2 linked regions of the Homo sapiens genome follow. Each later gene encodes a partner of the first gene's protein in a complex. Each region holds a gene or a part of one and is shown on either strand. Other genes may lie near its edges.

Region 1 (4,093 bases):
AAGTGGGATAGCTGCTTGAGGCCAGCAGTGCAAAACTAGCATGAGCAACATGCAAGACCCCATCTCTATGAAAAATAAAAAATTAGCTGGAGGTGGTGGTGTGCACCTGTAGTCCTAGCTACTTAGGAGGCTGAGGCAGGAGACTGGCATGGGCCTGGGAGCTCGAGGCTGCAATGAGCTATGTTTGTGCCACTGCACTCCAGCCTGGGCAACAGAGTAAGACCATGTCTCAAAAAAAAAAAAAAAAAAAAAAAAGAAGAGGAAAAAGAAAAAAAGAAAGAAGAAAGAAATGAAGGACAGGAAGGAAGGCCAAAGAGAAAGAAAAGGAAGGAAGGGAGGGAGAAAGAGAGGAAGGAAATAGAAAATAGAATCTAAAATATTAACAGTCCCAACTTTTTTTCCAGGAAGGGGCTATTTCATCCTCATTTAGGAACTGTTTGGCAAAGGTTTTAAGGTCACCCAAAGATGAGACCTAAAGAGTTCACTGCTTCAAAGAAGCCCTCCTCCAGCCAACTTGAGGCCAAAGTGGTTTGGAGTCAGAAAGTGAAGTATCAGATACACAGAGCTAATCACTTCAGGATTAACTTGATTATTTAATCAGGAGAAATACAGGGCAGCTGGAATCTCACTATAACGCCACTGCACAGCAAATCCAATTGCCTCATAACTTGGTTCTTTCCAGATTCCAAAACTCCCTTCATGGCAGGGACTGGAGTTCACACATTGGTTTCTTTTTTTTCTGAGATGGAGTCCTGCTCTTGTCACCCAGGCTGGAGTAGCCTGGCCCACACATTAGTTTCTAAACCCTTACTGAAAACAATCTGATAATTAAGTTAGTCAGGTTTAGGAATCCATCTTTCATATAAACATCAAATTAGGTTAGGCCCTTAGCTCTTGTATTGTGAAACTTCAGCCAAAAAGAACCCACAAACATTTACTGAGCATCTACCACTTGCCAAGTACTGTGTTAGAAGCTAGAGGAAAGAGAATGGATGAATAAGACCCTGTCTCTGACCTAAAGAGGTCCATCTCTCTGGACCAGTCAGATAGTCACAATAAAGCAATGTCAATCAGATTAAAATCCTACCCTTGGAATCAAAAGACCTAAATTTAAGTTTCAAGCTGACTAGCTGTATGGCCTTTCCTCCAAATCTCAATTTTCTGATTTGCAATGTGGTGGTAACTGTCATTTTATTTACTTCAAAAAATTATTGTGGGCCAGGCGCAGTGGCTCACGCCTGTAATCCCAGCACTTTGGGAGGCTGAGACAGAGGGATCACCTGAAGTCAGGAGTTGGAGACCAGCCTGGCCAACATGGCAAAACCCCATCTCTACTAAAAATACAAAAATTAGCCAGGCGTGGTGGCAGGTACCTGTAATCCCAGCTACTCCGGAGGCTGAGGCAGGAAAATCACTTGAACGCGGGAGGCAGAGGTTGCAGTGAGCCAAGATCGTGCCATTGCACTCCAGCCTGGGCAACAGAGCGAGACTCCGTCTCAAAAAAAAAAAGAAAAAGAAAAAGAAAAGAAAAGGAGAGGAAAGAAAGGAAAAAAAATTATTGTTAAGAAAAAAATAAAATCAAGATGAAAATGTGGCTGGGCGCAGTGGCTCACGCCTTTACATCCCAACGCTTCGGAGAGCCGAGGCGGGGAGATCACCCGACGTCAGGAGCTGGAGACCAGCCTGGCCAACATGGTGAAACCCTGTGTCTACTAAAATACAAAAAAGTTAGCTGGGCGTGGTAATCCCAGCTACTCGGGAGGCTGAAGCAGGAGAATCACTTGAACCCGGGAGGCAGGGGCTGCAGTGAGCCCAGATCCCGCCACTGCACTCCAGCCTGGGCGACACAGCAAGACTCCATCTCGAAAAAATAAAAAATAAAAATAAATGCAAATGTGTTGTGTAAACCGTAAAGCACAGTTCAGAAAAAAGCGCCATTTATAAAAATAGTTGTAATATAAAAAGGAAGCGTCTGTAAAGCAAGGAGTGGAGTGGTTCAGTAAATGGATGTCTGCACTTGCTGTTCCTTCCATCTCCCGCTAGATATCTGCATGACTCCCCTCATCTCCTCCTAGGCTCTGCTCAAATGTCACCTTATTTAAGATAGGAGATCCCCCTTTCTCCAGCATTCCATGTCCTCTCTCCCCTACCTTACTCTAAAGCATTGCTCACCATCTGTTACACCGCCTGATTTACATGTTTGCTGTCTAGTCGTACTAAAATGGTATCTCCACGAGGGGATGGACTTTCATCTGTTCGACTCACTGCCTGGAGCATCGCAGGTGTTCAATAAATATTTTTCGAGTAAAGTAATGAAGTCAAGATTCATTCTGAGTCATAAGAGGGACTTGGGAGAAAAGGAGCGGAGCAGCCGTTATCCCGAGCCCGAATCCTGCCCCTCGCTCCTCCATCTACTGGCTGGATGACACCCTTCAGAGGCTGTTTCCTTTTTTGGACAGTTTCCGACGGTGGGGCGGCCAAGGTGAATCATGGGCTCCCCAGCACCTGGGACAGAGATGACCCGGCTGAGGCCAGGCCGGCTCCAGCACTGACCTTGAGCTCTTGGGAGACCCGGGCCTTCTGCCGGTACACGGAGTACAGGGCGGCGGTGACCACAGAGGTGGTGCCCAGGAGGATGAACTGGCACAGCGAGGGCCGCCCTCCGCTCTCCATGACGGCGGCGAGCCCCGGTGGCCGACTGTGGCGCCAAGGATAGGCCTGGTGACCCCCGACTCTCCACCTCCTTCCGACCAGGACCGCACCCCCCCGGCCTAACCTGACCGGAAACTCGAAATCAGTCGCCCAGCGATGACGCACGACGCCGGAACCGGAAGCGGGGCAAGGGGTTGTAGAGGGAACCGGAAGGTGGGGTTGCCCGGGTGACAATCAAGCTGCTGCGGCCTCCAGGGAGGTCCTGTCTCCCCAGCCGGGTGTCGGAGAGCGATTGGGGAGCTGAGCGACCACCCACCGCTCCATGGCCGTCCCCTTCGAAACACGGCGCACTGGCCATGACTGACTCGCCCATCGCCCTGGTTTCCGTCCCTCTGGTTTCCTGGGGTTACTGGGCTGTTTGATGGGTTATTCCATGTCTTCGCCATTAGATTGGCAGGAAATAAAATAATTGTGTATTAAACTCTTATGAGTAATATACGTTTAAGTTTCAGAGCAAACTCTCAAGACTTGGAATTTATTCTGGCCACTTTACAGATGAGAAAAGTGAGGCCATAGAGGTTAGGGAATGATGTGCTCGAAGTCTAGTGAGTGCTAGAGAGGAATTCACCCAACTCCAAAGCCCTCAACTCTACCCCAGGAGGGCAGATTATATCACCAAAGTAGCCCCTTAATCTGCCATCACCACATAGAACAACATATTTATTAAATAATAATTACGGCTACGCTTAGTGCCTATTATGTGTCAGGTTCGAGGCGGGGGAGGTTTTGCAGGCACCATCCCACTGAACCTTCACAACACAGCTATAATGCAGATTACCGATAAAGAAACTGAGGCTCAGGTAAGTAACTTGCTCAAGGTTATACAGCTAAAAGCAATAGGTATGGCCATAAAACCCAGGGGATCCTTCTCAGAGACTGTTCCCTGATCTCTGTAATGCATCTCCTTTCTAAAATAATCGGAGATAACCCAAATCTTTCTTCTAAACATCAGCATTCATTGAGCTATCTCCTACAGGTTATGCTTTAATTTTTTTATTTGTTTGAGACAGGGTCTTGCTCTGTCGCCCAGGCTGGAGTGCAGTGGTGCAATCATAGCTCCCTGCAGCCTCCCACCCCGCAATCCTCCCACCTCAGCCTCCCCAGTAGTTAGGACTAAAGATGCATGCCACCCCCGGCTAATTTTTTAAAAAATTTTTTGTAGAGTCAAGGTCTCACTATGTTGGCCATGCTGGTCTGGAACTCCTGGGCTCAAGTGATCCTCCTGACTTGCCTTCCCAAAGTGCTGGGATTACAGGCGTGAGTCACCACACCAAGCCTAAATTCTTGTATTTTCATGTTTACATGTATAAGTATTTATGTAGGGAGAATTTCTAGAGGTAGAATTGCTAGGTCAATGGGTGTTGGCACCATTAATCTTGAT
Region 2 (4,022 bases), on another chromosome or scaffold:
TGCCCAGGCTGGAGTGCAGTGGCACAATCTCGGCTCACTGCAAGCTCTGCCTCCTGGGTTCACGCCATTCTCCTGCCTCAGTCTCCCGAGTAGCTGGGACTACAGGCATGCACCCCCATGCCCAGCTACTTTTTGTATTTTCAGTAGAGACGGGGTTTCACCATGTTGGCCAAGCTGGTCTCAAACTCCTGACCTCCAGTGATCCACCCGCCTCGACCTCCCAAAGTGCTGGGATTACAGGCGTGAGCCACTGTGCCCCGCCTTTTGTATGGTTTTGTGTGAGGTCTTGGGAAAACCAGTTTTGTAAATACATTGATCCCGTAGAAGTTTATGTATTACTCTTCCATTATGATCTGTTTCATGTTTTGAGTTTCTCTGTAGACTGACAATACACTTTGAAAATGTCTGAGATTGGGAAGTTACCGAAGCATGATCTTAAAGAAAGTAGTTGTAACGCTGAACAGTACTGTATTTTAAAAAATTGCTTAGGCTGGGTGCGGTGGCTTATGCCTGTAATCCCCCAGTACTTTGGGAGGCTGAGGCGGGCCGACCACCTGAGGTCAGGAGTTCGAGACCAGCCTGCCCAATATGGTGAAACCCTGTCTCTACTAAAAATACAAAAATTAGCCAGGTGTGGTGGCACTCACCTGTAATCCCAGCTACTCAGGAGGCTGAGGCAGGAGAGTTGCTTGAACCTGGGAGGCAGAGGTTGCAGTGAGCCAAGATCTCGCCACTGCACTCCAGCCTTTGCAACAGCGAGACTCCATCTCAAAAAAAAAAAAATTGCTTAAAAATACTGTAGGCCGGGCTGGGCGCTGTGGCTCATGCCTGTAATCCCAGCACTTTGGGAGGCCAAGACAGGTGGATCACAAGGTCAGGAAATCGAGACCATCCTGGCTAACACGGTGAAACCCCATCTCTACTAAAAATACAAAAAATTAGTCAGTGTGGTGGCAGGTGCCTGTAGTCCCAGCTATTCGGGAGACTGAGGCAGGAGAATGGCGTGAACCGGGAGGCAGAGCTTGCAGTAAGTGGAGATCGCGCCGCTGCATTCTAGCCTGGGCGACAGAGCGAAACTCTGTCTAGAAAAAGAAAAAAATGAAAATAAAAAATACTGTAGGCCGGGCGCGGTGACTCACGCCTGTAATCCCAGCATTTTGGGATGCCGAGGTGAGTGGATCACGAGGTCAGGAGTTCAATACCAGCCTAGTCAAGATGGTGAAACCCTGTCTCTACTAAAAATATAAAAATTAGCCGGGCATGGTGGTGAGCACCTGTGATCCCAGTTACTGGGGAGGCTAAGGCAGAGAGTTGCTTGAACCCGGGAGGTGGAGGTTGTGGTGAGCTGAGATCGCACCACTGCAGTCCAGCTTGGGCAACAGAGCAAGACTCCGTCTCAAAAAAGAAAAAAAAATACTGTACTAGAGGTGTGGTACCATATATTAGATTAATATTAGAGGTAAGGACTGATTGAATTCCTATCAAAATGATGAATTAACAGGTAGTCCTGTGGAGTATTGGGAACTTTAATAAATGGTTGTCTGAATATGGCTATTTAAATTAGTTCTATCTTGGATAGTTCTATCTTGGATACCTTCTTACTCCAAAAGGTGAGCTTCTTCACATAAGTTCTGGGAATTTTTTTTTCCCCACTAAAAAAGTATTTTTTATTTCCTTTACAAAAGATCATTGAATTAAGGCACTTTCTTTGGCTCTACTAGATTGTTATTTAAATATAATTCAAACAGCCATCGAGGATAACTGTTAATAAATCTAGGTTTTCTCTGAAGTCTCCCAGTGTATATTACTGTACTGATGACTGACAAGGAAGAGGTTTTGACAAGGTCCAATTCTGTATATTTCTCTTAAAATATCCTAGGCAGTTCCCAGGATAGGAGTATCTGACTCATGCCTCATGCTACCAGGAACCTTTGCAGCCTCATCCCAGAAATGCAGAAACACACTTGTTTTGTCTGTAGAAATAAAGTTTTGATGGTTAGATTTCCAGGCAAACCTTCAAAATCATGTTAAACTATAATATAGGGAAATAAAGTAGTGTTTGTTCTTCTGTCTGCAGAGTCAAGTGAGATTTTGGGTAATAGAATCATAAAATGTTAGCACTGCAGCACATCTCAGGGCTGCTGTCTGGAAAGGCCGTGTGACCTACCAGGTAAGAGTAGGTCTGAATTGAGAACCTGGATTTCTGGACTGTCCAGTGTATTTTCTGGCAAGCCATGTGTTATCCTTACATAGCTGTTAGGTATATAAATCCAGAGGATGCAGCCTTTTTTCTTTTGTTCAAACAATTGGATATTTAAACTGTGTCCTGGAACCTGAAGATCTTCCTCAACTTCCCTTTATATGATTGGCAAGGTTGCTCATACTGCTTGAAACTGCAAATTTAGGCTTGACACAGTGGCTCATGCCTGTAATCCCAACACTGGGAGGCCAAGGTGGGAGGATTGCTTGTACCTAGGAGTTCAAGACCAGCTTGGTCTGTAATGGGAGACCCTGTCTCTACAAAAGCGAAACAAAGTGAAACAAAATTAGCTGGGCATGGTGATGTGTGCCTGTAGTCCTAGCTACTCAGGAGGCTGAGACAGGAGGATCACTTGAGCCTGGATGAAAGGTTAAGGCTACGGTGAGCTGTGATCATACCACTGCACTCCAGCCTGGGCAGCAGAGCCAGATTCTGTGTCAAAACAACAACAACAACAACAAAACAACTATTGCAAATTTGGTGTTCTATTCTCACCACCACCACCACCCCGCCTTTTTTTCCCCCGAAACGGAGTCTCTACCTCTGTCGCCCAGGCTGAAGTGCAGTTGTGCAATCTCGGCTCACCGCAACCTCTGCCTCCCAGGTTCAAGAGATTCTCCTGCCTCAGCCTCCCAAGTTGCTGGGACCACAGGTGCATGCCACCACGCCCGGCTAATTTTTGTTTTTTGTTTTTATTTGAGATGGAGTCTAGCTCTGACGCCCAGGCTGGAGTGCAGTTGTGTGATCTCGGCTCACTGCAACCTCTGCCTCCTGAGTTCAAGCAATTCTCCAGCTTCAGCCTCCAGAGTAGCTGAGACTACAGGCGCGTGCCATGATGCCCAGCTAATTTTTTGTATTTTTAGTAGAGATGGGGTCTCACTATGTTAGCCAGGATGGTCTCGATCTCCTGACCTCGTGATCCACCCACCTCGGCTGGTTTGGAACTCCTGACCTCAAGTGATCCACCTGCCTTGGCCTCCCAAAGTGTTGGGATTACAGGCATGAGCCACCACCCCCGGCTTTCTGCATATATCTTTCATCAGAGTCAAATGGATTTTGTTTTTTAAGTGAAAGCAAGTTTATTAGGAAAGTAAAGGAATAAAGAATGGCTACTCCCTAGGCAGAGCAGCCTCAAATGGGTTTTTAATCTCTAAAAAGACTAAAAACCACTGTCCTTCCACCTTAAACATTATTTTAATCTCAGCAGATGAACAGAGTACCTGTTCTGCAGAGAAAATATAAATCTTACGTGTGAGTTGTTAGGGATTTCCTTCAAGGTATTAAAACAACAGATCGGCTGGGCGCGGTGGCTCATGCCTGTAATCCCAGCACTTTGGGAGGCCGAGGCGGGTGGATCGTGAGGTCAGGAGATCGAGACCATCCTGGCCAACATGGTGAAACCCCATCTCTACTAAAAATACAAAAATTAGCCAGGCACAGTGGTGGGCACCTGTAATCCCAGCTACTTGGGAGGCTGAGGCAGGAGAATCACTTGAACCCAAGAGGCGGAGGTTGCAGTGTGCCGAGGTCGTGCCACTGTACTCTAGTCTGGGCGACAGAGCAAGACTCCCTCTCAAAAAAAAAAAAAAAAACAAACACAGATTTCAGCTATCCACTTTAGAGTACTCACTGTGCATCAGGAATTACTTGATCTTTTCAATAATCTTTCAATAATTCTGTTCTCCCCAGGTTAGATAAGGAAACAGTGGGAGAAATAAACTTGCCTAACATTATATGGTTATGGTAGGAAGAACTAGGATTC

Evidence for each region.
Region 2: the proteins of MUL1 (region 1) and UBE2D2 are in contact, whole or in part, in a crystal structure (PDB 6M2C), measured with the Homo sapiens proteins. Residues at the interface, in NP_078820.2 of Homo sapiens: Val303, Val304, Cys305, Leu306, Cys326, Ala329, Leu330, Pro331, Pro337, Ile338, Arg340; in NP_003330.1 of Homo sapiens: Met1, Arg5, Lys8, Glu9, Asp12, Phe62, Ser91, Gln92, Trp93, Ser94, Pro95, Ala96.

The regions. Positions count from the first base shown.
Region 1 is NC_000001.11:20,505,352-20,509,444, forward strand, and holds the start of MUL1 (mitochondrial ubiquitin ligase activator of NFKB 1), read right to left. Parts: upstream 2,801-4,093; 5' UTR 2,674-2,800; coding exon 2,554-2,673; exon of another isoform or gene 2,176-2,553; coding exon of another isoform or gene 2,173-2,175; intron 1-2,172. UniProt on the Homo sapiens protein: Exhibits weak E3 ubiquitin-protein ligase activity. E3 ubiquitin ligases accept ubiquitin from an E2 ubiquitin-conjugating enzyme in the form of a thioester and then directly transfer the ubiquitin to targeted substrates.
Region 2 is NC_000005.10:139,567,572-139,571,593, forward strand, and holds part of UBE2D2 (ubiquitin-conjugating enzyme E2 D2), read left to right. Parts: intron 1-4,022.